Linked DNA regions of Homo sapiens. The protein of the gene in region 1 interacts with the protein of each later gene in a biochemical or structural test. Each region holds a gene or a part of one and is shown on either strand. Other genes may lie near its edges.

The links.
Region 2: the proteins of CITED2 (region 1) and TFAP2A form a complex in vitro, tested with the Homo sapiens proteins (2 studies listed by BioGRID, with this or other methods).
Region 3: the proteins of CITED2 (region 1) and LHX2 form a complex in vitro, tested with the Homo sapiens proteins (one study listed by BioGRID).
Region 4: the proteins of CITED2 (region 1) and FBXL5 form a complex in vitro, tested with the Homo sapiens proteins (one study listed by BioGRID).

The regions. Positions count from the first base shown.
Region 1 is NC_000006.12:139,371,590-139,379,242, reverse strand, and holds CITED2 (cbp/p300-interacting transactivator 2), read left to right. Parts: upstream 1-4,594; 5' UTR 4,595-4,830; intron 4,831-4,880; exon of another isoform or gene 4,881-4,979; intron 4,980-5,029; exon of another isoform or gene 5,030-5,104; coding exon of another isoform or gene 5,105-5,111; intron 5,112-5,290; coding exon of another isoform or gene 5,291-5,298; coding exon 5,299-6,111; 3' UTR 6,112-7,436; downstream 7,437-7,653. UniProt on the Homo sapiens protein: Transcriptional coactivator of the p300/CBP-mediated transcription complex. Acts as a bridge, linking TFAP2 transcription factors and the p300/CBP transcriptional coactivator complex in order to stimulate TFAP2-mediated transcriptional activation.
Region 2 is NC_000006.12:10,411,938-10,419,696, forward strand, and holds the start of TFAP2A (transcription factor AP-2-alpha), read right to left. Parts: upstream 3,138-7,759; 5' UTR 3,055-3,137; coding exon 3,004-3,054; exon of another isoform or gene 2,744-3,003; intron 455-2,743; exon of another isoform or gene 1-454.
Region 3 is NC_000009.12:124,007,335-124,014,935, reverse strand, and holds the start of LHX2 (LIM/homeobox protein Lhx2), read right to left. Parts: upstream 3,169-7,601; 5' UTR 2,588-3,168; coding exon 2,468-2,587; intron 976-2,467; coding exon 773-975; intron 1-772. UniProt on the Homo sapiens protein: Acts as a transcriptional activator. Stimulates the promoter of the alpha-glycoprotein gene. Transcriptional regulatory protein involved in the control of cell differentiation in developing lymphoid and neural cell types.
Region 4 is NC_000004.12:15,624,354-15,631,585, reverse strand, and holds part of FBXL5 (F-box/LRR-repeat protein 5), read left to right. Parts: intron 1-794; coding exon 795-920; intron 921-3,552; coding exon 3,553-3,701; intron 3,702-4,630; coding exon 4,631-4,713; intron 4,714-5,608; coding exon 5,609-6,334; intron 6,335-7,232.

The DNA.
Region 1 (7,653 bases):
TCCCAAAGTGCTGGTGATTGTGGGCATGAGTCACTGCCCTCAGCTGAGATAATTTAAATAACGTACAAAATACAGTGCTAAATCTCACCTTCCTCCCTTCCCTAGCTGCACCACACAAGTATGAGGTCTTTCAATATATTTTTTGAAGCTGGGTCCTTCAGTCAGCCTTTTCTCAATTCAGGTTTTAGCTAAAGCCAGAGACTCACCTCTAAAAACTTGTTTCAGTCAAAAGTTCACACCAATGGGGACCTTTGTCCATTACTCAGCAGTCAGTGATGCCCAGGTGAGTCATCTTCCCAAACAGATAACAGTTTTGCCCAAGTGGCTGCCACAATGCAGACAAAGGTAAGCTGCTGTTCTCCTTTTCCACTTGACTTTTCTACCTCCAGCTTTTTTTTGGTAGAAGGGATGAAGGTCTCACTCTATTGCCAAGGCTGGAGTGGAGTAGTGTGATCACAGCTCACTGCAATCTCGAACTCCTGGGCTCAAGCAATCCCCCCGCTTCGGCCTCCCCAGTATCTAGGACTACAGGTATGCACCTCCACACCCAGCTCATTTTCTAATTTTATTTTGTTGAGACAGGATCTCAAGATGTTGCCCAGGTTGGTCTCGAATTCCTGGGCTCAAGTGATCCTCCCACTTCAACCTCCCAAAGTTCTGGGACTACAGGTGTGAGCCACTGCACCTGGCCTACCTCCAGCCTTGAGAGTGACCTTCTCCAGAAAGTCTTCCTTGGCCCCTCATTGGGGTTCCCATAGTGCCAATGCCATATTTTATTCATGCATTCACCCTTCAATTAGTAAAAGTCTAATACCTGCCAGGACTTGTTTCAGACAGTGAATGAACAACCAGGCTAGGTCTCTGCTCTCATGGAGCTGTCATTCTAATGGGGAAGGCAGTAAACTGTCAATTTACCATGCAGCATGTCAGGTAGGAAGATACTCTAAGATGAAACATAAAGCAGGGCAAGGAAACAAGAGAGATATTGCTATTTGGGTAGGACAGTCAGGGAGAGTTTGTTGAGGTGATATTTGAGCAGAGACATGAAGAAATGAGAATATGGGCCAGTAGGACGTCTGGGAAGACAGTTCCAGGTGGCAACTTTCTTTGTCAGCAGCAGGGGTCTTGTATTACTCAGTTTATTTACCACTGTTATTAGTCAAATTGTGTCCCCGCAAAAATATCTTGGAGATATGTTGGAGTTCTAACCTCCAGAATATGACCTTCTTTGGAGTCAGGAGCTTATAGAGGTGATCAAGTTAACATGAGGCCAGTAGGAGAAGCCCTAATCCAAAAGGACTAGAGTCCTTGTCAAAAGGGGAACTTTGGACACAGAGATACACATACAGGGGGGCGGGGGGTGGAAAACGTCACATGAAGATGAAGGTGGGGATCAGTGTGATGCATCTACAAGTCAAGGGACACCAAAGATTGCCGGGAAACCACCAAAAGCCAGGAAAGAGACACGGAATAGATTCTCTCTCACGGTCTTCAGAACCAACCCTGCCAACAACTTGGCCTTGTACCTCTAGCCTCCAGAACTGTGAGACAATAATGTTTTGTTGTTTAAAGCTTGATCAGCCTTAAGTTTGTATTAGACTGGTGCAAAAGTAATTACAGTTTTCGCCATTGCTTTCAATGGCAAAAATCACAATTACTTTTGCACCAACCTAAATAGTACTGTGTTATGGCAGCTCTGGGAAATGAATACAACCATTCAGTGCTGTGAGGGCCACAGACAGATCACTTGCTCGCTCACCCAGGTTCACGGGATAAACCCTGGTTATACGGAACTTCTGGGAGCCCTGGGTTACTGTAAGTGCCCCCTAACTGGACTCCCTGTTTCCTGTCTTACTTTCTCTAACCATTCTCCACAGTACTGCCCTGATCTTTCTAAAATCCAAATCTTTCCTATCTCATGGCTTCACAAGCTTTTACCTGCCTCCCAATGTCTTTGGGATACAGCAAAATTTCTCAGCTTGAGGCCACAATGCCCTTGGCATCCGGCCCCAGCATATTTCTCCAACCTTATTTCTCTCATCTTTGCATTCACTCCCTAGCCATACATTTTCTACCCCACTCCTAATGGGACCAAACTTCCATTCATCCTGAGGCCTCCACTTAGTCACCATCTCCACCGGAAAGCCTTCCCAAAGCACCCAGGAGGGGGGTAGGTGTCCCTCCTATGTGCTCTCCAAAGCCCTTTCCTTCAATGCCTTTGTGGCATTTATCACAGTGTGTTCAAGGCCTGTTTGTCAGTTTTCTCCCTGTGACCATGAGTTCCTATCTTGTTTGTATCTCCAGGCACCAAGAAAGCACTTGGCACTTGGAGGACATTCAGTGGACGGATGAGAATAAATGAACAAAGCATGCCATGTTCCAACCAGCTGGTCCCAGAACTATTTTGTTCTCCTTTAAGGGATGGGGGATGGGCAGGTGACCTTTCCAGGGATTTCCCAATAGTAGGTAGAACCACTGGAGCTGGATGGAGCTCCACCTTTCCTTAGTGGTTGCAAGAGGAATTTAGATTAGACATTCAAAAGCTGTTTCTTGTGTCGAAAGACACTTGCAGTACAAAGAAGGGAAAGTAAACAATCCCGCGATTTTTCAGGTTGGGTTTTACCAATATTTTAGAATCTGTTTTTTTATAGGAAGTGGCCCCTTCAGGTATCCAAGCCTCTGATACGGTAAACTGCATGTCCTGACCTACAGGTAAAGGTGGTGGGAGGTTAGGAGAATAGGGAATTGTTGCAACTAACAATGCAATGTGTCATGTGCCCGTATCTCTAAAAAGTAAATATTTTTGAGGTTTAAAAATTATTTGCCTGCACGGTTTGCCGGAGAGCCTGGAAGAGGAAAGAAGACAAGACACAAAGTAACAACATTTACAAAAATATGCCTGACTAGGAAAAGACAGAGGGGTCATAGACGAAAATAATCAGGATTGGGTCTCTTTTGCAAATTCCTGAACGGGGAAATGTATCAGAATTTCCAGTCCTCAAGAAACAGGGCCTTTAAAAGTCTTGTGTGCAAGAAGGGGGAAAAAGACGAGGGGGGGGCGGGGAGGCGGACTCGCTCTTCGCAGCAGGAAGTCTTCAATGGCTATCGAGTTATGAAGAAACAACTGCCCAGAAGTCCTTATTCGGAGCGCTAAACTCGATTTTACCACATAAAGAGCAATGTAAAAGCTCAGAACAGCCCCATCATGGTGTTGGGGAAACAACTCGGCTTCCCCATGTGAGAAAGCCAGAGAGCTCCGACTTGGTAGTAGCCCAGACCTGTGTTAGGGGTTTTATTTGCAAGTCAATGAACCAAACGGGCGACCAGGCTCGTTGTGCCGCGTTGTGGAAGCAAGGTTATTATTATCGCCCATTGCCCCACTGAACAATTTCACTGAAAAGGAAGAGTCCCAGCCGTGTGTGTGCGCGTGGTGCCATACGGGACGTGCAGCTACGTGCCCACCTCCAGAACGACTTTATTTACAAAGCGATTACCACGTTATCTATTTGTTTTCCTTTTCCAGCAAGAGCAGCCTTACTCAGCCCTCAAATTTCTTAATTACAAACCCGTTTGCTTCTAAATCAACCCCAAACCGTCAGGCAGAGCCCGGAGGGAGGCTCTGCAAGTTTGTACACACCCCCACCTCCCGGATCCAGGGCAACAGCAGAAGCAAGTAACTGTGTATGTGCAAAAAGGTGGATCTGGGGACGAGGATCGCTGAGTTTGTTTACAGAGCAGAGACGCCTCAGCTCGGATGCCAAAGCTACCAAGAGCTGCAAACGCAAACTTAGCAGAAGCACACGTACCCCGGGAGCGGCAGGCGGGCCCGAAAGCGCGGACTGGAATTCCAGGGCGCGGGAGCGGGGGTGGCCGGGCCCTCGAGCGCGCTCCGTCCACCTGCAGCGGCTGCCCCTCCCCGCCCCCAGCTCCTGTCCTTGAAAGGAGTGGAGGAAAAAAATGCATCTACAAGCGGTGATCTAGAGTAGGTCTACCCACTGCCCGTATGAAAACACAAAGGCACAGCCTAGGAAGGCGCGCTCAGGAAAGGGCGCATTATTTGTCCGGGTCTTTAAAACCCAACTCGAGGAAGCACAGCCATTCTTCGCTGCCTGTGGAAGCTTTTGCAAAACCGGGGAGGCACAAGGGCACTCTGGAGGGCGGGGGGCGCTGGGCGAGTCCCCTTTTCCCGTAGAGAGCGGGGCAGATCGCTAGGTGAACCGAGTGAGAAAGCTGGGGGTGGGGTAGATCCAGCCTGAGGGGGGCGGTGAGCTCTCCTCGTGGCTATCCCGGCAGGCTCTACCTTCGGGCGGGGCGGCAGGGGAGGATTTTCCCCCTGCCTCGGGGGTGGCTGAGCCAACCTCGCGTTTCTGGGCCGGGAAGAAACCAGAGTCGGGGGGCGACGGGGCGACTGGGCGGCCCCCGGGCCCCGCAGCCTCTGCAGCACGTGCCGCGGGCGGCGGGGACGCGGCTCCGGGACCCGGTCCAGGGTGTTCGCGGTGTTCCGGAATCCGCGTCTTGGCGCCGCCCGCCCTGGAGGCTCTCGCTCCGCCTTTCCGAAATGCCTATATTAACTGTGGCCAAAGCCCTAAGAAACACAGCTCATTGTTGGCAGCTGCCGGGCGGTCCTGCCGAGCTGTGAGGGCAACGGAGGGGAAATAAAAGGGAACGGCTCCGAATCTGCCCCAGCGGCCGCTGCGAGACCTCGGCGCCGACATCGCGACAGCGAAGCGCTTTGCACGCCAGGAAGGTCCCCTCTATGTGCTGCTGAGCCGGTCCTGGACGCGACGAGCCCGCCCTCGGTCTTCGGAGCAGAAATCGCAAAAACGGAAGGTAAGCGCGACGGGCGAAGCTGGCTGGGGCTCTTGCCAGCCCAGTCCTCCGAGGGCAGGGTTTGCCCGGAGGAAGAGCGTGAGGCGAAGCTGGGGAATAACAACAGGATGTGCAACAACAGGATGAGGAGGGCTGATTTAATGCCTGAAGTTCGCAGCAGGGCTACGGGGCACTTCCTTTATTAGGCCACTTCGGGGAGCAAAGGGGGTGTGGGCTCGGGTCCCCCCGCCCGATCGCAGGGGAAGGGGCTGTTTGTGCAGCGTCCGGCTGTGTTATGAGTGGTAGCTCTTCCGTGGTGGCTAGCCCGGGTGCACAGGCTGTTAGTGGGATCTTGGGGGTGGTGGTTCGCAGCCGACGTGCGCCCGGGAATCCTGGGGGGCAGAGGCGAGCAAAAGTGGGGTGCGCTGTGGTGGGCGACACGTGTGGCGCGGGTCTCATTATCTGCCCTTTTCACTTCCAGGACTGGAAATGGCAGACCATATGATGGCCATGAACCACGGGCGCTTCCCCGACGGCACCAATGGGCTGCACCATCACCCTGCCCACCGCATGGGCATGGGGCAGTTCCCGAGCCCCCATCACCACCAGCAGCAGCAGCCCCAGCACGCCTTCAACGCCCTAATGGGCGAGCACATACACTACGGCGCGGGCAACATGAATGCCACGAGCGGCATCAGGCATGCGATGGGGCCGGGGACTGTGAACGGAGGGCACCCCCCGAGCGCGCTGGCCCCCGCGGCCAGGTTTAACAACTCCCAGTTCATGGGTCCCCCGGTGGCCAGCCAGGGAGGCTCCCTGCCGGCCAGCATGCAGCTGCAGAAGCTCAACAACCAGTATTTCAACCATCACCCCTACCCCCACAACCACTACATGCCGGATTTGCACCCTGCTGCAGGCCACCAGATGAACGGGACAAACCAGCACTTCCGAGATTGCAACCCCAAGCACAGCGGCGGCAGCAGCACCCCCGGCGGCTCGGGCGGCAGCAGCACCCCCGGCGGCTCTGGCAGCAGCTCGGGCGGCGGCGCGGGCAGCAGCAACAGCGGCGGCGGCAGCGGCAGCGGCAACATGCCCGCCTCCGTGGCCCACGTCCCCGCTGCAATGCTGCCGCCCAATGTCATAGACACTGATTTCATCGACGAGGAAGTTCTTATGTCCTTGGTGATAGAAATGGGTTTGGACCGCATCAAGGAGCTGCCCGAACTCTGGCTGGGGCAAAACGAGTTTGATTTTATGACGGACTTCGTGTGCAAACAGCAGCCCAGCAGAGTGAGCTGTTGACTCGATCGAAACCCCGGCGAAAGAAATCAAACCCCCAACTTCTTCGGCGTGAATTAAAAGAAACATTCCCTTAGACACAGTATCTCACTTTTCAGATCTTGAAAGGTTTGAGAACTTGGAAACAAAGTAAACTATAAACTTGTACAAATTGGTTTTAAAAAAAATTGCTGCCACTTTTTTTTCCTGTTTTTGTTTCGTTTTTGTAGCCTTGACATTCACCCACCTCCCTTATGTAGTTGAAATATCTAGCTAACTTGGTCTTTTTCGTTGTTTGTTTTTACTCCTTTCCCTCACTTTCTCCAGTGCTCAACTGTTAGATATTAATCTTGGCAAACTGCTTAATCTTGTGGATTTTGTAGATGGTTTCAAATGACTGAACTGCATTCAGATTTACGAGTGAAAGGAAAAATTGCATTAGTTGGTTGCATGAACTTCGAAGGGCAGATATTACTGCACAAACTGCCATCTCGCTTCATTTTTTTAACTATGCATTTGAGTACAGACTAATTTTTAAAATATGCTAAACTGGAAGATTAAACAGATGTGGGCCAAACTGTTCTGGATCAGGAAAGTCATACTGTTCACTTTCAAGTTGGCTGTCCCCCCCGCCGCCCCCCCCACCCCCATATGTACAGATGATAATAGGGTGTGGAATGTCGTCAGTGGCAAACATTTCACAGATTTTTATTTTGTTTCTGTCTTCAACATTTTTGACACTGTGCTAATAGTTATATTCAGTACATGAAAAGATACTACTGTGTTGAAAGCTTTTTAGGAAATTTTGACAGTATTTTTGTACAAAACATTTTTTTGAAAAAATACTTGTTAATTTATTCTATTTTAATTTGCCAATGTCAATAAAAAGTTAAGAAATAACTTGTTTTCTAGAAGTCATTTGGGGGTGGTTGTTCCCTTTGGTGGCTTTTTTCCCCCCGTCTTTGAGTTGAACACTATTGATGAGAGTAAGCATTCCAAAGGATAAATTACAGGACACTAAAACAGGTCATGATGAGCTTAAGCGGAGAGCAGGATTTAACATAATTGGCATAATGCTTCATTGTTATCATTGTAACATGCCTCTTGGTGTGCTTTAATCAAAAGCTGCAAAGTTGTCACTGCTTTTTTTTTTTTCTTAATTGCCATCATATCAAGTGTACTCCAGAGTTAGAAAGGTTTGCAATACTCAACATTATCTTTTTCAATGGGCAGGAGGCAAAAAAAATCAAGTGTTTCTGTTTATACCTGATTCAACTACTTAAATAGAGGTAGATTGGAATAATACACTGATTGATTGATGGGTGGCATTAAATATAAATCTACCTTTATCTCCAGTGATGAGAGTTTTATTTCTCAGCAAAAGTGCCAAGGATAGGTACATATTTTCTAGCGTAATCTCTGAAACAGTGTCTGACTGGTTTATAGTTCTGAGAAAGATGAGGCAGAATTCCACTTTGAGGCTTTTGTCCTATAATATTTAAAATGTACTCAGGTTGACTCAAAGGTCAAATTACAGTCTTTACAAGATGTTCCCTCTTAAGCATG
Region 2 (7,759 bases), about 130 Mb from region 1:
ATCCGTGTCTCCCCCTCTTTTCTTAGCGGCGGCTTCGCTTGAGCTTCTAATAACCGCGCTGGGCAGCGTTCCTGGAGCCTCCTAATAGCAGATATTCATGACTATTAATATTACACGAATACTTAATAAGGGAAGAATGCCTGGAAATCGAGCGTGAAGCGGAGAGGCAACTCGCGCCGGAGCCGGCTCTCAATGCAGTCCATTGACGGGAGTCTCAGTGTAGCAAATCGGAGTGGGGAGAGGGAGCGCGAGAGACAAAAAGCGAGCGAGAGAGGGAGCGGGCGAGCGCGCGGGGGGCCGCGGCGCGGCGTCTGGCGAATCACAGGGAAGGGGCAACATTTTAAAAGGTTGCAGGGCATGCAAAAGTGAAAGAGAAAGAGGCAGAGAGGGAGACCGAAGGAGAGAGCGCAGAGAGGGAGAATGTGTCTGCGTGCGTGTGTGAGAAAGAAAGTGTGGGCGAGGGAGAGGAGCCCCGGGTGGGGAGAGGGGAGGGAGGGAAGGAGGGAGAGCCCGAGAGGAGGAAGGGAGGGAAAGAGGGAGGGAGGAAGGGAGGGAGGGAGGGGGAGGGGGCCCAGCCGGAGCGCACGGAGGGGGAGGCCGCGGGGGAGGGGGAAGGGGAGAGGAAGCGAGCGAGGACAATCAGACCTAAAAGGCTGGGGCAGACCTCGGGATGCAGCGGGGGTCGTGCGTAGCGGGTAGGAGCTGCTTGGGACCGCGTCCGGGCGCTCGTGGGGCTCTCGGCGCGGCAGGCGCTTCCCGGCCCTGTCTGGCCGCGGGCTCCGCCGCTTCGCAGCCGAGTCTGGGACTCGGGACTCGGCTGCCCGCTGCTGCGCGGCTCCTCCATGACCCGGCGCCCTGCCCGGGACCGGCCCGCTCGCTGCACTGGTCCTCTCCTCGGCCTCCTCTTGAGCTTTCCTCGGACAGGGGCACCGTGCGCTCCCCGGCCACCGTCGCTCTGCCCTCGGCTCTCTGGGGCCGGGGATTCCGGATCGGGAGCCGGGATGCGGGCCGGGGCGCGCACAGACGCTAGGCGGCCCAGCCCGGGCGCCGCTGGCACCGGCTCGCGGCTCCCGGCAAAAACCCGTCCGACTGGCTGGGCCACTCCCGCCTGACGCCCCCCCAGATGACACGACTAGCTCTCCCGGCGTGCTGCCTTTGCCAGTCTACCCGCCAGGTTGTCAGAACAAGCGGCACCTCGCCTCCTGCGTGTCCCTACAGAGCCCCGGCACAATCAGACTGCCCCAAGCCAGCTCCGAAACCCGAAATCCCCGCTCCGGCGCTTGCCCACCACGGCCAAAGTTGTGGAAACAGCTTTGACTTTATTCTCCTCTCTCTCTCATCTTTTTTTGCCTCGCTTACACACGCATTCACACTTGCCCCCACAGGATCCCTCTAGGGGTGCAAGTTCATCCCCCACCTAGCCACCCACCCCATCCAGTCGGCACCTAGAGCCGCACGGAGGTTCGGACCCCGCCCGCCGAGGGCGCCCACACCTGGAGCTGGGTTTCGGCCTCTGCGAAAGTGAAATGCCCAAGCCTCCGGCCAAAGCCCAGACCAGTACAGTATGAATTGTCCTATGAGACTGAGGGGTTCGGCTTCATTCCTACCTGCCCGCAAAGCTCGCCCCCAGCCTCGAAAACAAAGCGACTGGTCTGACGTGGGGTCCCTGCGCCCCTCCTCTAGCGCGACAGGACCCCCCCAGGGAAGAGCCAGTACCCGTGGGATGTCACCCCGTCCCCATCTACCGGGGTGGGGGGCCTGAAAGGAGAACGATTTAAAATAATCTTCAGAAAGAAAAGGGAGGAGGGAGCGGGTGACACATCGTTCACATAAACCCAATTTCTGGTTTCGAGTGAAGTCAAGATCTCCGCCCCTGCGCCTGCACACACACCTCCTGCCTAACATTCTCAGCTGCAAATGCCAAAAAAGAAAAAAAAAAAAAACAGCAAAAGTTGGGACTGCCACCTATTTATTTAGGTAATCTCCAGCCCTACACACCCCAACCCCTCTCTCGGACTCATTGCTCATTACAGTGTTGGTTGTAACCGTTCCCAGCGCCTCCTGCGGGTGGACAGGTCGCGCTAGGGTCTCCCTTGCTGCCTCAAGAAGGCGAGCTCAGGGGACTCTGCGTTTTAAAATGGGTTCCAAAGCGGCGCGCTCTGTCGGCCCAGCGGGCTTGCGGCACCAGAGGTGGTCTGCAGCCGCGCAAGGATTCCCACGGTCGTTCTGGGCTGGTGCAGAAGCTGGTGCTCCCGCACCCAGCGGCCAGCAGGCTCGGCGCAGCACATCTCCCCACCCCACCCCCACACACCCCCGTGGGGTGCGTCGATCCTGTAGCTCAGAGGGAGAAGCTACTTAGAACTTCGTGAAGCACAGAGGATCTGGAGCGAGCCCCGCAGCTGGGATCAGTGGTCTTAAGTTGAACCCGCTTACAGGAAGATGCAGCCCAGCTCACAGCGAAGTGTGGGGGGGCCGTCTCTAAAGCCGAGAAGGGAACCGCTTTAGAAGTGGGGGTGGGGGGAAGAAAGAATGAATGAATGAATGAATGAATGAATAGAAAGAAGAAGGAATATTAAAGATCGGAGAGGAAGTTCAAGAGAGAAAAGAGTTTTCTCTTTCCTTTCTGTTCCTGGTGACTTGGGCCCTCAATCTCGATGAAGATAACACGAGGAGTGCACAGGCAAGTGCCCAGTTGCCAGCAATTGCTTCAAAAGCCCATGTTCTTCTTTTCCCCCATTCTTAGGCACAGCCAAAATTGGTCAGAAAGGGGAGTAAAGTGGGACACGAGCTTCAAAGTAGGGAAACCAAAGAAGGGAGCATCCACGTCCTCTCTCTGCAGCTTCTCCCCCGCGTTCTTCGGGCGAATCCGAGGGACGGGCGCTGCGCTGGGGAAAGTTTGTCCCACCCGCGTTTCGCAGCTGGTTGCAAGGAGAGGAGGAGGAGAGGGAGGGTCAAGCTCGGAGCCTGTGACCGCACGGATGATCGAGCCGGCGTCGCGCTTACCTCGCAGTCCTCGTACTTGATATTATCCGTCAATTTCCAAAGCATTTTCATGGATCGGCGTGAACGGATATGCCCCTCTCGGTCTCGCACCCAAGTGGAGCTACTCTCTGGGTGAGCGCAAAGTGCTGGCTGCCGGCGGTGAGCGCAGGAGGAGGAGGAGGAGGGAGAGGAGGTGGAGGAGGAGAAGGAGGAGGGAGAGGAGGAGGGCAAGGAGGAGGAGGAGGAAGAGGAGGGCGAGGAGGAGGAGGAGGGCGAGGAGAAGGGCGAGGAGGAGGAGAGAAGGGAAAGAGCTCCCGTGTGCGCTCGGAGATCTCCCTCTAATGGTAGAAACTTTTCCCTTTTCCAGCTCTTTACCAACAGCCTAATCGCCTCATTAGCATATCAACAATAGTCCAATTGCTCGCCAGTACCACAATCTGCCGCCGGCCGCTCCGACACAGGTATAAAGGCCTCTCTACGCCGCGAACTTGCTTCTAGAGCGCACTCCAGCCTGCGAACTGATAAAACCTTCCTCGAGCTCCGCCGCGAGGCCCTGCCCCAACACCCCCTCTCTTACCCCAATTCCGCCACATTCCCCTTCCTTTCTTTCTCCGCTTCCTTTTCTCCAGAGATGCCTTCTGCAAAGCCCGGCACTGCTCAAGGTCCAAGCGCCACGCCTGGGGCCCAGCTTCTAGCACTTCTCCCTTAACCCTGCTACCACGATCCGAGCTGCCCTTTTGGCCCCGTGCAATTTTATTAGAAATCATTATCCCTTTCGCAATTAAACATAACCACCAAACCAAGACCGGCGAAGTCACTCCAGGATTTTTTCCCAACAAGGGATCGCCTCCGCTCGAGGCAGCCACCCCCTCGGGCCGCAGCGCCTTGGGAGTTTTATTGGCTTTGAGCTTTCCCCCAGGTTGGAGATTCTGCCAAGCGGCTCCGGTGGCTCTGCTGGGGTTTGCAATCCCTTAATTGCAGCGTGTAAAATAAAAGTTGTACCCTGAAGAGGTTACTTGACAGCTCCAGGGGTTAAACAATTTTTCTCCTGTTTGTGTGAAGCTAGGGCCAACTGACAGTTCAAATTGGTGTTCAGGCTAAGGTTTCCTGGGTGCAACGTGGACACGAATACAGAACTCCTATGGAACTGCACACCCGCTTCTGAAGTTGAGCCTAAAAACAGACGTGTGTGTGCCTGCAAGTCTAGATACCGTCTCGTGCGTGCATCAAAATAAATCACCGGGAACCGACTTTTAGCTGTGTTAATCTGCTCTAGTTTTCCCAAGATTCCCCTTTTTAATTAAAGCAGGGAGAGTTCCTTCATGATTTGGTGATGCTACTAACGCGGGCGTGCTCGCGAGGCAGAGCCCGGCTGCCGCGGAACCTGGAGGCCTGGGAGCCACCTACTCGTCCAGACTGGTCAGTCCGGGCTTTTGGACTCCTCACCGGGGCCTGCTGGGTCCTCTGGGGCTTTTATCCCTTTCGGTTTTGGGATTTTTTTTTAAGTAAGAAAAAAAAAAAAGAAAAGGACCTAATGTGACACTAGGAAATACAGAGTAATTAATTTTCCTGGCTGAGCTTCCTCGTTTGTCCTCCAAAAGAAAGTTACCTCTGTCTTTTCTCTCTGCTATATGTACAAACTCCTTAACTACACTAGGTCCCGCCTCAGAGTTGCTCTAGTAAGGACCTTTGATTCATCTGGGCTTGTTTCTCGAAAATCTCCAGGCCTCCCATATTTCCACCGGGCGTTCCTAAAAGGGGATGGGAACTGTGGCAGATTGGAGCATTCCCTCACAGGTGGAAGGAAGGCAGGAGCTGGGAGAACTCCCCATTCCACCCAAGGCTGCAGAAGGGGAATTCTCCCTCCAAACACCTCAGCAAACTCCCCAAACCTAGCAGAGTAGGCAGAAGGCTCCAAAAAGCTAGGGAGAAGCCGGAGCTGGCAAGGGGCCTTACAGACCCAGGAAGCCCTCCCCATGCTCTGGGCCTCCCTTGCCCTACCTGAACTGAGCACAATTCCTCGGCTGAACCGGGCTGGAGGCTTGGCGCCGCCCTCCGTCCAGAAAATGGTCGACTTTCCAGGGCTAGACCCTGCAGGGCTGTCCCAGCCTGTCGCCAGTGCAGTGGTTTGAAGTCAGGATCTGGGCTGCCAGGAGCACCGACACCCTCCCAGCAGCGGCCATAGCCTGAGCAGGCCAAACCCTAGGCCTGAGAGCATGGGTTTTTACACTCCGTAGACGTCGCCGCGGTGTGCTTAAGGGAACTCCAAGTTTCGCTTTCTTGCCCTCTGCGGGCTTGGAAAGGCCGCCCTCCATCCTCTGCCACCCCATTTCAACCCCCGTTTCCACCTCCCCGCTGCCCCGCGCCCAACAGATCTCCGGCTCCGCACCCGCTGGGGCTGCTAAACTGTTGTTGTATTCCCGCCGAGGGCGCCATTGAGGTGCAGATTGGGACCTGCCGGCTCTGGACTGCCGCCCCCGGTGTAGGCGCTGATGAAAGGCCCGGGCGAGCGCCAGGGTCGCCTCTGGAGCCAGCCGAGCTGCATTTATGCCAGCGTCATTACCACGCTAAGTCGCTTCATTGCATGTCAATGCTCCGGCGGGGCCAGAACCCCGGGACAGCAGCGCCAGGCCTGGGGTTGGAGGTCGGAGATCCAGGCCTGACGTGGGGGGCATAAAAAGGGCGTCGCGGGGAAGAGGGAGTATTTGTGTGAGAGACAGAGTCACAAAGAGAAAGAGACAGTGAGGGGCCAGAACGACTCTCTTTTCTCCGATTGTCAATGCCCAGTGGGAGCCGGGAGCCCAACAGGCCCAGCCCATCAGATTCGGCCCCTCCGGGCCCCAAATCCGCTCGCCCCACCCGAGATCCAGGCCTCCAGCCACTTGCCTAACTGTGAGCCCGCAAGAGCCAGGCCCGCGGCTCCCTCCTTCCTCCTCCTGCGGCAGTCTCGCGGCTTTCAAACCTTAGTCGAACCCACAGAAGGCCCAGTCCCAGGCCAAACCTACTCAACAGGCACCTTCTCACGGCCTAGGAATTCTGCAGCGAAATTCACTGGAATTTGAGGAGAAAACCCAAAGACTGCTCCGAAAGGACTCCCCCAGTCTTCAGCCTCCAAATAAGAGAGTTAGGAAGGGCCTTTAGCCCACAGGGTCAGGAAGGGAAAGGTGTGGATTCCCGGGATTTGTCTCTGGTATGGGATTTGCATCCTTAAACCACGAGGTTTGTCTAAACTTGCGGATGAAATACCATTTAGTGAGGCTTAACTAGGGAGAAGAATATAAAAGAGCTCACTCTTGATAAAAGTAATAAATCCAAGGGAAAAAAGTACAGAACGCAAAAGGCCTTTCTTTCTCCAACTCCAGGTAGCTTAGTGAAGACTGCACTTCTCAGAACTTTACTTTTAATGGCCTAAATCTGAAACAAGAGAAAGAACTCGACCAGGAGTAGCAAGGCCTCAGATTTTTGGGGGGAAGTTCAGGGCATTAGATTCGAATTGTCCCCTGGGCTTTTGGGCACACAGAATCTCACCCTCACCAGGCCTCTTGGTTGGGGCGAAAACAGGGCCTCGCGGTTCTGATGATGAAATCGGCGACAGGCAGAGCCTTTTACCGCCACCATCCTGGCCAGAGCCGCTCTGTTTCCCGAAGGGAAAGTGTCTGGAAGTTGGAAGGAGAGAGCTGGACAAATGCTTCCTTGGCCAGGGTCGGAATCCGGGGCTCAGGAAGGACAGGAGCCAAGCCTTGGATGCCTTGTGGTGTCCGCGGCCTAGCAGGGCCAAGTTCCACAGGCGTTGGTTTTGGCAAATTCACCACCCCCCTGCCTCCTCACCCACCATTCTCACACTCCCTCATCCGTAGCCCAGGCGGCAAAAACCCATTTCAGGAAGTGGAGTGAGTTGCTAGCTAAACTTCGGGCAAACTTTGTATCTCCTACAGAAACACGCTGCCTCCGCGACCCAGCCATCTGGACCCCTTTCCATTCTTCACACATCCTAGATCTCCCGAAATCTGGGGGTACCAAGAGAGACAGGTGCACCAGAACCTGTCCAACACTCAACCCTGGGGTCTAGGGCGAGGCCGCAGGCGCAGCAGGCTGAAAACCTTCACCGCCGCGCACCACAACCCCAGGCCTTCTCCCTCCCCCCTTCCGAATTAGTCATCCTCCCAAGTTTCTACTTGAGGTGGGAGGGGGGTGGGGGAAACGGCCACAGCACAAACCACAAGTGACCCACCAGGCCACCTGTGGAGCGTGCGCCGGACTTCCCCGGCGCCGGGCCCCGCGGGCTGCGCGCTTTGCGCCCAGCACCGCAGTCGCTGCCTGCGCCCGTTTTTCCTGTCTTCGCTGTCTCCTGGGAGCTCTCCTGGGCGCTGCCAGGCGCGCCTCACCTACGACTCCCCTGCCCTGGGCCACGGCGCTTCCTCTCCTCCTCCCCGCTCCGGCCCCCTCCCCTACTCCACCCCTGCCCACCTCAACCCCAGCCAAGGCAAACCCCCCGTACCTGCCAGTCCCCCATTTTGGCAAGTATGGACATCGCGGCTCTGCGCTCCTGGCGACTGGTCCCCGCCGGGCATGGGCTGGAGGGCTCGGTCGGGCCAGCTCCCTGGAATCGCTTAGGCAAATCCTCCTTTTTTACCTGCTCACCAACATCTCACCTGGTCATAAAGAGCTGGGTTGCTACCTGCCGACGCATGCGCGCTGGCCCAGGAATTCACTCCGCCAGCTGCAGTCCCAGCGCCGCACAGAGCTGACCTGGGAAGTGATGGATTTATAGCCGCGG
Region 3 (7,601 bases), on another chromosome or scaffold:
GTTTCCCTTAACACACTTATGCCTACAGAGACTTCTACTTCACCCAGAGTCTCCGCAAGCCCTAGGAAAGCCTTTACCTGGGAGTGGAGGGAGACACTTACCACTTACCCCCTCCTCAACCTTTACTCCTCCCTCCAAACCAGCGCCTGGGAATCCTACTGACTTTTATAATTTGGAAGAAACACAGAGACAGGGAAAGAGAGAGAGACACAGACGTAGAGACAGAGACAGAGAGAATATACATAGACCCTAATCCTAAAACTGGGGAGAAGGAGAAACAGAGAACTTGGAGTCTACTAGTGATTCTGGTTCTTTGATCTTGGCCACCTTTCATTCCCATTTTCTCAAAAGACCTGGAAATGCACCCACTCCCACAGCTCTCTTTCCAGCTGTGTTTCACTCCAGCTTGGGCTGCCTAGGTTTGGGGGTGCCTGTTTCTATAACCTCGGATTAACTCAAGAAACTTCAAAGAGAGAGGGGAGCAAGGATCCCAACTCAAGCTTTTTTGTGGTCTAAGCTCCGAGCAGGAGGGCAGCTTCTGCTTTTTTTCTGGTTCTCCTACTTCGTAGACCTTTCCAAGAGCTCCCCAAATTGCTGCTTTAAAAGGTTATCACCCAACTTGTGGTGGCTTGGAGAACTTGGGGGGGGAGCGGGGGAGTCCTGAGTAGTGAACCCTCTCCTGGGACTAAACGGAAAGGAGAGGGCCAAACTGTAAGACTGTGCCTGAGATTGGGGGGAGGGGTCCTGAGGGGCAGTTGGGTGGGGGGGCTACCTGTAGTAGTCTTCCTTGCAGTAGATGCTACCGTCCTTGCTGAAACAGGTGAGCTCCGACTCCAGGTTGAGCTTGCACTCGCAGCACTTGAGGCAGCGCATGTGCCACTGCTTGTCCACCGCCAGCAGGTAGTAGCGGTCCGAGATCTTGCCCCCGCAGCCGGCGCACAGCGCGGCGCGGTCACTGCTGATGGACGGCATGGTCTGCGAAGGGAGGGAGGCGGAAGACAGCAGCGCCTGCGTCAGCCAGCGGCCCCTCCGCCGCCGGGAAACCGGCACCCACAACTCCCTCTGTGGCCTTGGCTACCCTGAACGCGGAGGGGGCTGCCAGGACATGCGGCGCGCTTCCCCCCACCCCAAAAGGCCCATTTCCATTTCTGGGCGGTTCAGAACCCAGGCCTGCCTGCGCAGCCCTCGCCAGCCACGGGCCCAGGCCGGGCTCCTGGCCTAAATGGCTCTGGTGCTTACCTCTCTTCCTTCCAGTCCTCCCTGTCCTTTCCCCCAAAATGCTCGGGCTGTGTTTAGGGACCAGGACAGCTACTCCAGTCAAGCCCTCCAAGAGCTTTCCCTAAACTGCTTCTTAAATGAGCCACCCGGGGGATAAGGTGACCATTAAGTCACCCTCCACACAGAATCCTCTTTGGAGAGACAGCGGAGTTCCTGGGCCCCAGCTCCAGTGATCCCTGGATCCTTAGACCAGAGGTTAAGGCCAGGACAAGTCAGCCAACTTCTGGCTCCTCTGCCACACGGGCTGGGGCCCTCTTGGGTCCGGGGATGAGGTAAGTGGGGTGCAGGGACACCCTCAAAGTCCGTGGGTGAAGGACAGGTTCAACCCAAATACTTCCCTATCCAAACTGACCAGCAGAGAAGGTCTAACCGAAGAAGCGCTCAGAGGCCGGGAGGACACTGGCGCCGCTGCTCCTGCTCCCGGAGCAGAGAAGCTTCTCCCGTGCTCCCCACCTCCGCGGCCTCCTAAAGGTCACTTCTGGGCCCGCTGGTCGGGCAGTGTCTGCTCGTCTGGCCCCCAGGGAGGCCTGAGGCGAGGAACTGGCTATTTGGGGCTGGGCCCGCGGAGCCAGGTGTAGAGATCCAAATGGAGTCTCCTTCGGCGAGGGCCAGGCCGGAGCCTGAACTCCCAGCCCTGGCCTGGCTAAGTCTGACCAGTCAAGGGTCTGGGGACGCGATCAACGACAAATGTTGGCCCCGAAGACTTCGGCCTCTGAAACTGCGCTGGGGGTTGAGGAGGATCCCCGATTGCCGGAAAGCTGGGAGCGGCCCAAGCCGGCTGGAGCCCCAATGCTCCCAGCTGGTTCGCCCTTCCCTGGCGCCGCTCGCGGCGCCGCCAGCAACCGGAGCCGAGAGGTGGAGGAGAGCGCGGGGCTGTCGACCCCGGCACCGGGCAAGGTGAGAAGGGAGCCGCCCCGGGCCGCGGATGGGACTTCGCTTCCAGTTCGGAAGAAACGCTCTCCTCTACCCCCAGGGCCGAGATTTCGGTTTCAACCTTGTTTCCCTTCTGCGTCCCAGCAGCCGGGTTTCCCCCGAACCGGGAGCCACCGGCCTTGCATTCTGACCGAGGATCCCCAGCACCCAGTCCCGTGCGGCACGAAGGACGCTCCCCAAACTTCGGGGAGCAGAGGCGCTGACTGGCCCGGCCCCATCCCAGCTCTCAGCCCCGACCCCACAGCCGCGCGCCTACCGTCTCGGTGTCGCCGCGGTCGATGGCGGAGCTGATGGCGGGAGCCTCGCTCTTGGCCCTGCGGTCCATCTCGTCGATGACCCCGTGCACCTCGGGGCCCGACAGACTGTGGAACAGCATCGCGGCGGGACCGGCGGGGCCGGGGGCGCGGCTCCTCCGAGGGAGGGCTTGCCCCCCGCCTCAGCTGCCTGGCGCTCCTGGCGCTAACGGGCCCGGTGCATCGCCACCGCGGCCCCGGCCCCGCCCGAGCTCGGCTGAGCCCCCAGGCCGGGCTCCGGGCCCCGGGCGCTCGCGGGGCAGGACGCCTCCCGCCGAGGCGCAGGGGCAGCTACATTGCGGGGCGCCTGGGCGACGGCGCCAAAGCCAGGGTCACAAGGGCACGGGACAAGCGGGGCGGGGGGAGCAGGAGACTAGGACAGAGGTCGGCGCCCGCCGCGGGCGCTTTCACGCCGCGGGCATCGCCCGCCCGGCTTCAGCGCCCGGGGCGCAAAGCAAGGGCGCAAACTCTGCCCGAGGCGGCGACGGCTGCGGTCGGGGTTCACCCTGAAGCCGCTAGGTGTCCGCGGCGGCCCAGCTGCCTGGACCCCTCCCCTCCCTGGGGTGCGCCCCCAGCCCAAGGCGACCCTCTTGGGCGCTGAGTCGGCGACTGGAGTAGGGGTTTCTCCGAAGCCTGCGAGCCGAGTCGAGCCACCGGGAGAATTGAAGAGGAGGAGGAAGAGGAGGAGGAGGAGGCGGAGGAGGAGGTGGAGGAGGAGAAAAAAGAGGAGGAGCAGAGTGGGAGGAGGAGCCGCCGGCCGCGGGCCCAGCCGCGCGCAATGCTCTCCAAGCGCGCGCCTAGCCCAGCCCCGGCTCTGCAGTCCGCGCCAGCGCAAGCCTCCGCGCCTTTTCTACAGCCGCGCCTGACATCACGTCCTGCCGCCGTGCCATTGGCCGCTCGGCGCCCCAGGCCCTGGCAGCGCGTGCTCCGGGAAGGCGGGAGACCCAAGAGGGAGGGGAGAGGCAAGAGGAGCAGAGGAGAGTCGAGATGGTGGGAGCTGGTGGGCGAGGCTGGAGGGCGGGGGTGGGGGGGAGGCAGGGAGGAGGGAGAGCGCGGGGTTTGGAGTTTTTAAGATACGAACAGCTTCCTGCGATATCTTCAGAAAGGAAAATTAAACCCTCTATCCTAAGAAGGCGCAGCAAGGGGATGCTCGTCTCACTGCGGTCTCCCCTCGGCCTGGAGCCGCGGCCTCAGGCACCCGCCTGGGAGGCCCGGGAAGGCAGGCCTGTGGCAGAGTTGCAAGAGCCTTCGGCCGGCCGTTTCCCATCGAGCTCCGCCTTCGGCCCGGGCTCTGCACAGCGGGCTGCAGGCGGCCGTGCAAGCCTCCTGGGTACCCGGCAGAGCCTGAGTGGCGAGACCGGCGAGAGCTGTGACTCCCGGGGAGGGGGGCCAGCCAGCATATCCACGCTCCAAGCCCGCTAGGGCCCAATCTGCAGCCCAGCGTGTAGCTTCTCGCTCTTCCCGGTCTCTCCCCAGCCTGGAAGAGTGGGGGCGAGCATGGCTTTAGGAACTCAGAAAGGCCAGGGTTCGAATCCTAGCTCTGCCATTTACATGCACTGTAACCTTAGGCAGTGACTTATCCTCCCTTAGCCTGTTTCTGACCTTTATAATGGGCGACAAGAAGCTCTCCTCCGCATGGACGTGTTGATTGAAAGAGACTGTGGATGTAAAATGCCTGGAACATAGTAGGCACTTAGCAAATTATTTCATTACTCTCTCTTGCTCCTTTTCCATTAAAAACTTTCTCACTCCAAGACACATTCGATATCAGTGAGGTTCTTAAAAACCACAGGCCTATTCTCTGCCCACTGGGCACACCATGTCTCAGACCCCGCTGATGGCGCGAGTCCTCCTTACCCGCCTGGCTGCACCACCTCCCCAGGGGCCAACAAAGTAGCGTGCTGGGTAAATCCCAACTGCTACCCCCAGCCTCCAGGTTTCAGGCTCACCCTAGAGTCTCCTGGGGACTGGAGGGAAATACCCAGGTGTCTGGTGGGGGAGGGATTTAGGAAATAAAATGATTGTAGACAAAAACTGAATAAGCACTTCGGTTACAGAGTCCCATCTGGGTCTGCTTCGGAGGCAGGTTTGGCTCCGTCTAATAGGGACAAGGCGGGTGTCAGTCTGAAATGACTTGTTTGCCAGGACAGGTAAGGGGATAGTCAGGACCTGCGGTTTACCTCACAGGGTACAGAGTTGAGGCATGAAATCATGTTTTTCACGTGTGTAAGTAACTTTCACACACAAATATATGTGTGCACAAATATATGTATGCGTGTAATGCCCAAGCACATGAACTTGTGTTCATGTGTGCAAATACACATGTTCATCTCTGTTGGCAATAACACAGCCAGCACGAATTTTATCTCTGTTGGCAAAATCACAGCCAGCACCACTGAAGAGCTAGGGTCTTACACATGCGCATCAGGTGTAAGTGTCTAGAGCTGGGAAGAAGGATGCAACTGCAAAATGGTAAATTGCACGTTATACCTGCACTTGCGTGCTCAGGCGATTCTACTTAAATCACTGCAAGTGCTCCTACGAGGTCGTTTTGCATAATTGAAAAAACTTGAAGTTACAATCATATGTGTATATTCTGCATGTGTACAGATGCCCCAACGCGAGGGAAGGACCACTAAACCCAAAGACGCGCGTGCCCGTGTGTTCACACAGACGTGTGCTTCGGCGCCTGCACACGGCCGGCGCGCAGGCATGCGGACGCCTACACGAATACATAGGCATGTTTTATTGACGCATCTGGGGCACTTTCTTTCAAAGAAAGTAAGGAATGAAAATCCAATCTGAGAGTCACCAGGGTTCATCTGGAGGTCGCCCAAGGGGCAGAAAAAATTTGTAATGACGCTAGAGTGTTTGTCCTTGGTGCAACTCCACTCTCGGGAGGGCTGGATACAATACGTTTGGAAAGCTCGAGGGGCTGCCTTAGGATCTGGGGGCGGGGGGTGGGGTACTCAGCAACTCTTGCCGCGGGCTGCTCAAGAAACGTGGAAACACACCCTGCGACTTTCCACTCCCCCATACATATAGGCACGCGATTCCGTCGCCACCTCTCGGACCAGCAGCCCACGTCCAACGCTGGGCCGACCCCAGATACACAGGCAGTCGGGATTCCCGCCCGGTGCGCTTGTCTATTCATCCCTCTGCGTCAGGCTGGGACGCGCTCCGTCTGTAAAAGGCTCAAACGCATCTCCCGCCGCGGGGCGGGATCTAGGGGCCCAGGCCCCGGGGTCCAGAGGCGGGTAACTTTGCTAATCTCCCCCAGCGGCGGGGAACGTCGCGCAACCGCTGAGCCCTGTCCGCCGAGACTAAACAAGCAGAGGAACAGGCTGTAAACACACATCCTGACACGTGAGTGACATTTACGCGGTGCGAGAAGCTGCAGCCAAGGGAAAGGCAAGGGGTGGGGGGAGCGGGCACCGACAGGTACGGAACCTTCGCAGGCGCCGGAAACGGCGGCCCCTCGACCTCCCCCTCCCCCAGAAAGTGGCAACGAATGCCTAAGTCCCCCGAACCTGCCTTTTGTGGGAGGTGACAGGTGAACGGAATTCAGGTCTGGCCACTCTCGCCGCTGCCTACCTCCCCACCATCTGCTTCCTCGCAGACAAGCAGACCCGGCGCATAATGAGGTAGCAGCCTCCAGCCGGCCACCGTGACTAACTCAGAACAAAAGCGCTCCCTCCACGCCTCCTCCAACAAAGGGGCCACCAGCCCCGGCGCTCCCCGAAGGCTGCGGGGCTCCCGGCTGCCGGCTGCGGAGCTGCCGCGCGCAAACTTCCCGGGGCTCCCGGGGCTGCCGGCGCCACGGAGCCGGGGCCGCGGAGGGAGGAAGCGCAAGCCGCCCGGAGAAAGTGAGGCCAGACCCGGCGGGGGAGAGGGGAGGGAGCCGGGCGGCCGCGGAAGGAGGGTGATTGATCAGTGCGCGGTGCCCGGCGCTCTGTCCCGTTATTAGAGGCGGCCAAAGCAGGGCCACGCAATAACCTCAGAATCGCCAACTAATTGACGCTGCAGGCAACTACTTCATTGTGCGCGCTGGTTTTATGTCTTCATAGCCGGTGATTGACAAGGTGTAATTAGTCATCTCACTCGGTGATAAACATGGGCACCCTCCTCCCGCGGCATCAGGCCGTGTGTACCAGCAGAGGAAGCGATAGTTGACGCTGATATACCATTAAATCAAAATGAAGACGTTCAGAAGTGTGTGTTTGCTGTGACGCTGTGATGGTTTATTTCTCAAATACGGCACCAACAGATTTACTTGATTTGCAAGTTAACTACAACATTAACTGGTTTTATTTATTTTGCCTCTTCCTTCCTCTTCCTAGGCAGGGATGTTGCTCTTGGAGAATGTGAAGACAGTTTGCTTCTTGACAAGCGAGCGAACGGGCGCCCAGATTTTTGCAGCCTTTCCGAGTCTCCCCCGAGGGAGAGGCGGCAGAGAAAACGCCGGATTTGGGAGCCACCAGGGAAGGATCCGCGCAGGGGAGCCGCCCTCCTTGGCCCCAGACCCGCCTGCCTGGGGCCCCCTTTGCTCACTGTCAATGTATGGTCTGAAGCTCTGAGGATGGTGCTGGGGACTGGGGTCGGGGGAAGCCTCTTGAATAATAACTGCAAAGAAGAAAGAGGCGAGAACGTCTCCCTAACCTTGAAGCAGAAAGGACTGTGTTCTTAAAGCTGTTGGCTGCAGTCACAGGGCCAGTTGCCCGCCTCTGTTCCCTGAGTAAAGTGTAACATCTTCTGTCCTCCTGGCTTGCTTGCACCATTCAGCAAATTATACTCCTTCCTTACCAAAGTGGGAATGCTCAGGGAAGTGTGTGTGTGTGTGTGTGTGTGTGTGTGTCCCCTCTGCACTGAGGCTGCTGTTAGAGATGTTACCAATTTAAACCTTCCAGAATCCTGGAGGTTTACATTTTGTAAAGGGAGGGGACACTCCTGGACTGTCACAATCCCAATTCTGGTTAGAGTGGCAGGGACTGAACAAAGCCACCAACATGCAAAAGTCCATCTCCAGAGTAGCATGCATGCCCCCAGGAAACCCCCAGTGGGATATGCTTCCTGCACTTTCCCCTTCTCTCTAACCTC
Region 4 (7,232 bases), on another chromosome or scaffold:
AAACAACAGATGCTGGAGAGGATGTGGAGAAATAGGAACACTTTTACACTGTTGGTGGGAGTGTAAATTAGTTCAGCCATTGTGGAAGACAGTGTGGCGATTCCTTAAGGATCTAGAACTAGAAATACCATTTGACCCAGCCATCCCATTACTGGGTATATACCCAAAGGATTATAAATTATGCTACTATAAAGACACATGCGCACATACGTTTATTGTGGCACTATTCACAATAGCAAAGACTTGGAACCAACCCAAATGTCCATCAATGATAGACTGGATTAAGAAAATGTGGCACATATACACCATGTAATACTATGCAGCCATAAAAAATGATGAGTTCATGTCCTTTGCAGGGACATGGATGAAGCTGGAAACCATCAGTCTTAGCAAACTGTCACAAGGACAGAAAACCAAATACCGCATGTTCTCACTCATAGTTGGGAATTGAACAAAGAGAACACTTGGACACAGGGTGGGGAACGTCACACACTAGGTCCTGTGGTGGGGGTAGGGGACTGGGGGAGGGATAGCATTAGGAGAAATACCTGATGTAAATGATGAGTTGATGGGTGCAGCAAACCAACATGGCACATATATACCTATGTAACAAACTTGCACGTTGTGCACATGTACCGTAGAACTTAAAAGTATTAAAAAAAAACAGTTGCTTATTGCCTAGGGCTCAGATGTTTTCTCTTTGTAGAGATTTTTATCGTAAATAGCTTAGTTTTTCATAATTGCAGGCAATCTGATATTATTTTGAACCTTTTACTTGTTTATTCATTGAGTAGGTGACTGGTATAGTGGTCCCGCAACTGAACTTGATACTGAACCTGATGATGAATGGGTGAAAAATAGGAAAGATGAAAGTCGTGCTTTTCATGAGTGGGATGAAGATGCTGACATTGATGAATCTGGTAAGCTTGTTTGGAATTAAAATTATTACATAGTGTTTTAATAATTGATAATTAAGTACTTATAATTATTAGGTATTAGATTTATGTATTTTGTGTTTTCTAAAGAAACTGGTGTTTCTAAGCCTACTACTTTTTAAAATTTGAAGGAATAATAATGAAATTTTAAATTAATTGAAGTACTTTAAAGAGTGCATAGGATTATTTCTCGTTTTTATATTAAAATCAAAAATCAGAAAATGGTACCTTTTTTCTTATGAAAATAATGTACGTTTATTATAGTGCTTTGTAGTTTACAATGTGATTTTAGCACCACTTCAAGTGATCAGTTGCACAGCATCTATTGAGTCATCTATGGCTTGAGGGAAATAGGATGAAACTGTTGAGTCGACTTACTCGTTTGTAGATAGTCTTAATACTTGCCTAATAAGGTTATTGTAGAATTAAGAAGTAATATACATAAATATTGTTTGTAAATGGTAAGGGATTACAAAAACTAATGTAGCCATTCATTAAACACTGTGGGAGAGTTCAAGGATGGATAAGACTTCATCGCTACTCCAAACAACTCACAAATGAGAGAGAATTTAGAAAACATAATTTTTAATTTAAAGTATATGATGGAAAAATGCTGTCATACTTGTGCAGAGAGATGCTATTTGGAAGTGTGAGGAGGAAAACAAATTCTGTCTTGGATATTCTAGATAATAATTATTAAAAGATGGTAAAATAGTAAAAAATGAACAGATGAGACATTCTTCTAGTTGGTAAAACTGAAACTATAGGAAATTTTATTTATAAAGTTACTTGCTTAAAGTAATTTGGTCTGGCGAAAGAATTAAATGTGGAAAAAAGACACGTGGAAAGTAACAGTGTAAGTATAAAGATTGTTGTATCAGCAGCTAAAGTAGTTTATTTTTATGAAACGCAGATGTGCCACATTTTGATGTAAAGATTCAAAATGTCCTATATAAGGAAAAGGTCTATTCTAGTTTGATAGATTTGGTGATGTGCTTACCTGTGGCAGGCATTGTTTTAGGTATGAAGGATCTAATGGTGAACAAAATGGAAAAAAGCAAAACAAAACTGGCGCTTGTTGAGCTTAAAATTTAGAGACAGGAGGCAAACAATAAATACAGGTAAAATATATTCCATATTAGATGGTGACAAGTGTTGTAGAGAAAAATAAGACAAGGAAAACATGCCAAGAAGAATTTAAAATTGCAGTTTTAAATTGAGCGATTAGTTAAGGTCCTTTGGGAAATTTGAGTAAAGACCTGAAGGAGATGAGATATTTGCTCAGATGTCAACTTAAGGAAGTCTCAGTTTATTCATTCTAGAAAATTAATTCATAATACCCGTGGTAAGAATGTTGAAGGTTCTCACAAATTCAGTGTATTTGTCTCCATACTTGAAGATAGCCAGAGGAAAGACTCAATTTCCTTCATATTGAAAAGGAAAAGTTAACGCTGTAAAGATTGAGCCTTTTTAGATAATATATCTGTTGATTATTAAAGACTAAACTGTCATTTACTTCAGTGCTTTTTTCGGTTTGGCTGCCTTGTCTTTTTACTTGTCCTAAGAAGTTATTGTTTTTCATAGAATGTTTAACTTTCTTAAAGATTTCACAGTTCCAGTTACCTTGATTTAATCATCACACATTGTATACAGGTTCCATAGTATCACATGTACCCCCAAAATATGCATAATTATTGTATATCAATAAAAAATTAAAAATTTAAAATTTTCACAGTAAATAGTATACATTTAGATAGTGAGGGCCACAGAAACAAAAGAATGGTTTGGGAATAAAATTATAGTAGGGCTCACTAAAGTAATTTTTATCTCCTTATATTTTATCTTCGTGTGTGTGTGTGTGCGTGTGTGTGTGTGTGTCTGTGTCTGGCTAAAGGAGGAATTTAGGATAATATCTAAACAAGGAACCATGAGTAACAAATTCTTTTAGTTGATATCCTTTTGTCTGCTATACTTAGTTTTGTTTTAAATGAGACTTCCTTAACTTATTCTGTTAAATCATTTTATGTTTAAAGACATTCAAATTGGTCTTTAGGTAAGAATAATAACAATAGGATCCTGAGAAAGGTAATACAATACAATTATTCATTCTTTTTAGTGTAGTGTGTTTTTTCCTTTTTTCGAATTGGAGTTTATGGTGTTTTCATGGTGGATGTTACAGTAGTACATTCTGTTGTAAACATCCAAGCTTTACAGAAGTTATTAAGTAAAACCAAAAGCCATGCTCATTTTTAGCTTCTTAGAAATTCTAAAGTACCTTCCTTTGCTTGATTCATTATGATCAGGCTAATTTAGTTGAGTTTCAAATCTTTTCTAGCTTTGTGCCCTTTTTAGTTATGTGGAATCAGTGATAGTACGTTTTACTATGGATCATTTTTCTTTTGATATCATATTTTCTTTTCTCTTGAAAACTTTTGCTGTTCTTTTCAGTTTTCACATTTTTTTCCAAAACCTTTTCATTGCCTAAAAATGGGATGGTTTACATAAGAAAGTATAAGGATAGCACAAAGTATGTCATATTTAACAATTTGGTGAGCGCTTGAGTAGCTTAATTATTATCAGTTTATCAAGTTCTTGGACTTTTGAATTCATTTTACAGAAGAGTCTGCGGAGGAATCAATTGCTATCAGCATTGCACAAATGGAAAAACGTTTACTCCATGGCTTAATTCATAACGTTCTACCATATGTTGGTACTTCTGTAAAAACCTTAGTATTAGCATACAGCTCTGCAGTTTCCAGCAAAATGGTATGTTTAAATTAACACTAGTTTGGGTATTAAGAAAAACAGCATGATAAGAGTTTGGTTTGCTCATTCCTGAGTTTAATTAAGGGGAAACAAACCCAAAAATGATTATTGAGTGCCTTCCTATGGGTAGGCATACACTGCTAGGTTACTTATTATTTCATTGCAGTTCTCACAACAATCTTTGTAGCATAATTATCATTACCTATATGTTACAGATGAGGAAACTGACTAGAAGAGGTTAAACATTTTATTCAGTTTCACAGATGTTAAGTGATAAAGCCCAGTTTTATGTGATTTTTTAAATAATATGTAAGGCATGGTAAGATGGGCAAATGAGATGAAATCACTGTTTTATAAAAGTGGATATTACGACTTCCTACATCAGAATCTTGAGTGTTCCTTAAAAATGTAAAAATCCTGGTTTAGTCTCATAACTGCTAAAACAGATACTTGGGCGGGTGCGGTGGCTCATGCCTGTAATCCCAGCACTTTGGGAGACCGAGGTGGGTGGATCATGAGGTCAGGAGTTCAAGACCAGCCTGGCCAATATGGTGAAACCCCATCTCTACTAAAAATGCAAAAATTAGCCAGATGTAGTGGCGTGTGCCTGTAGTCTCAGCTACTCAGGAGGCTGAGGCAGAAGAATCGCTTGAACCCGGAAGGCGGAGGTTGCAGTGAGCCAAGATACTGCCACTGCCCTCCAGCCTGGGTGACAGAGCGAGACTCTGTCTCAAAAAAAAAAAAAAAAAAAAAGAGATTCTCAGGGATTTGAGCCCAGAATATTTTATTATACTTTTTTCAAGTATTCAAGTGATTTTTTTTTATATTCACAAAAGTTTGTGAACTAGATTATGTTTACTAATAGTCATCTGTTACTTAGCTAACTGAAGTTCTGCAGATCTTTACAGTGACAATTTCTTGCCTTTTAGGTTAGGCAGATTTTAGAGCTTTGTCCTAACCTGGAGCATCTGGATCTTACCCAGACTGACATTTCAGATTCTGCATTTGACAGGTTAGTTATTTTAAACAATTTAAATATAATGAAAAACTATTTTATAAGGTTTCATTTATGTAATTGCAGTTTAATCATACTATTATTTTTTACTATCAAATCTCAGTCATGTCTGAGTATAATTTGATAGCACCCTCCAGTTCTTCACTTCTTACTCATAGGTCCCAGCTGATCCAAAAATCCCATCTGTATTATCTTGCAATCTCTGTAGTCCTATATTTTGTCTAGGCCCTTGAGCCCTGCTGTGCAACCATGTAGATTGGTATTATATGTTTTTAAGAAGTTTTAGTTTTAGTTGGGCTCTAAGTGCCATTTGGCAAAGCTCCCTCTTAGATTCTTCACAGTTACTCTGAAATAGTATAGTGTAACTTTCTTCAAGCCACCTTCTTCCCAGAGTATATCTCCTTGACCACCAATTCTCTGTATTATTGCTCACTCCCTCTTTCCCACCCAACTATTTATATCAGCACCTTTTTTCCTGCTGCAGAGGAAGAGGTATACTCTTCTCGGGCTAAAGCTAATGCTCCATCTTCCTAGAGCTTGTTTCTTATGGATCTTCCTCATTAACCGTCGGTTATTCTCTTTCTTTCATGTGTTTGCAGCCTTACTTCTGCTGACTACTTTTAGGATAATAAACTTAAGTCTTCCAATCCTTACGCCTCTCAAATCCTACCCTTCTGTTAGGTTAGGAATACTTTGACTTCCTTATTACTCTCATTGAGTTTTTGTATCCCTAGCATCAAGAATAGTACCTTAACAATAGATAATTCACTAAATACTTAAGTGATTATATTAGATGTCAAATCTTTCTTCTGGTTTTCATCTACATGCATATAGTCAAATGCTTTTGAAAAATTTAACAATATTCATTAATAGTCTTGTCTTTTAATTATAGTTGGTCTTGGCTTGGTTGCTGCCAGAGTCTTCGGCATCTTGATCTGTCTGGTTGTGAGAAAATCACAGATGTGGCCCTAGAGAAGATTTCCAGAGCTCTTGGAATTCTGACATCTCATCAAAGTGGCTTTTTGAAAACATCTACAAGCAAAATTACTTCAACTGCGTGGAAAAATAAAGACATTACCATGCAGTCCACCAAGCAGTATGCCTGTTTGCACGATTTAACTAACAAGGGCATTGGAGAAGAAATAGATAATGAACACCCCTGGACTAAGCCTGTTTCTTCTGAGAATTTCACTTCTCCTTATGTGTGGATGTTAGATGCTGAAGATTTGGCTGATATTGAAGATACTGTGGAATGGAGACATAGAAATGTTGAAAGTCTTTGTGTAATGGAAACAGCATCCAACTTTAGTTGTTCCACCTCTGGTTGTTTTAGTAAGGACATTGTTGGACTAAGGACTAGTGTCTGTTGGCAGCAGCATTGTGCTTCTCCAGCCTTTGCGTATTGTGGTCACTCATTTTGTTGTACAGGAACAGCTTTAAGAACTATGTCATCACTCCCAGAATCTTCTGCAATGTGTAGAAAAGCAGCAAGGACTAGATTGCCTAGGGGAAAAGACTTAATTTACTTTGGGAGTGAAAAATCTGATCAAGAGACTGGACGTGTACTTCTGTTTCTCAGTTTATCTGGATGTTATCAGATCACAGACCATGGTCTCAGGTGAGTTATCAGTTCCAGAATATTAAGAAATAGACGTGTTCTCATTTCCAAATGGAATATAAAAATTTTGATCTAAGTCATTCTTTTCAGTTGATTTACTTAGCAAAAAGGATTAACCAAGATCTGCCCTACTTCAGAGTTTTGGAGCAGTGTAACTTCTGTTATCAGTATGAAGTTTCATTTCTGTCAGTTCAAATCCATTGTGATGTATGGAAGAACATAAATTCTAAAGTTTAATAAATACTTAGTAAATGGCTACATCACATATTTTAAGGTACTTTAGTGGATGAAGAAGGTACAATTTTTACTCTCAAGAACATGTAACAAGAAAATATGCATATTCTGTTGCTGTGTATTATTTCTGTATGTTATAGTTTTATACTGAGGGTTTTGGAAAACGTAGGCTGTCCCTGGAAGTCATTTAGTCTGACTACACGGCTGTTAAGTGTTTACAAAAGCCAAAGCTGAGCTAGAGTTTCATATGTAGCTAGAGTTTAGAAATTTTGGTCTTTGATCATGATCAGCTTACCTTCTGTTGCTTTTTTAAGTCATAAAGAGAACATGTGGAAGAAGTTCTACATTTTCTTTTCTGTTTTTTTTTTTAATAAGCATAATCTTCAGCAGATTAAACCGACTTTTTTTTTTTTTTTTAACCTCCTAGAGGAAAGAAGGGCTGAAGGTGACACATGTGTCAGCCCAGACAGGTAGCTCTTTTCAGCAGCTAGGTTCTATATGTTTTATAGGACCCACCTCAAGATTTGTTAGGTTACGAGTATGCACTGTTGGAGAAAATACCATGGTGCACTGACTTGGGAGCATGGCAGACTTGATGTAGATTGATTTTGCTTTTTTCTGTATGACTGGCTTTGTGCAAAATACTTAACCTTATACTTTGAGG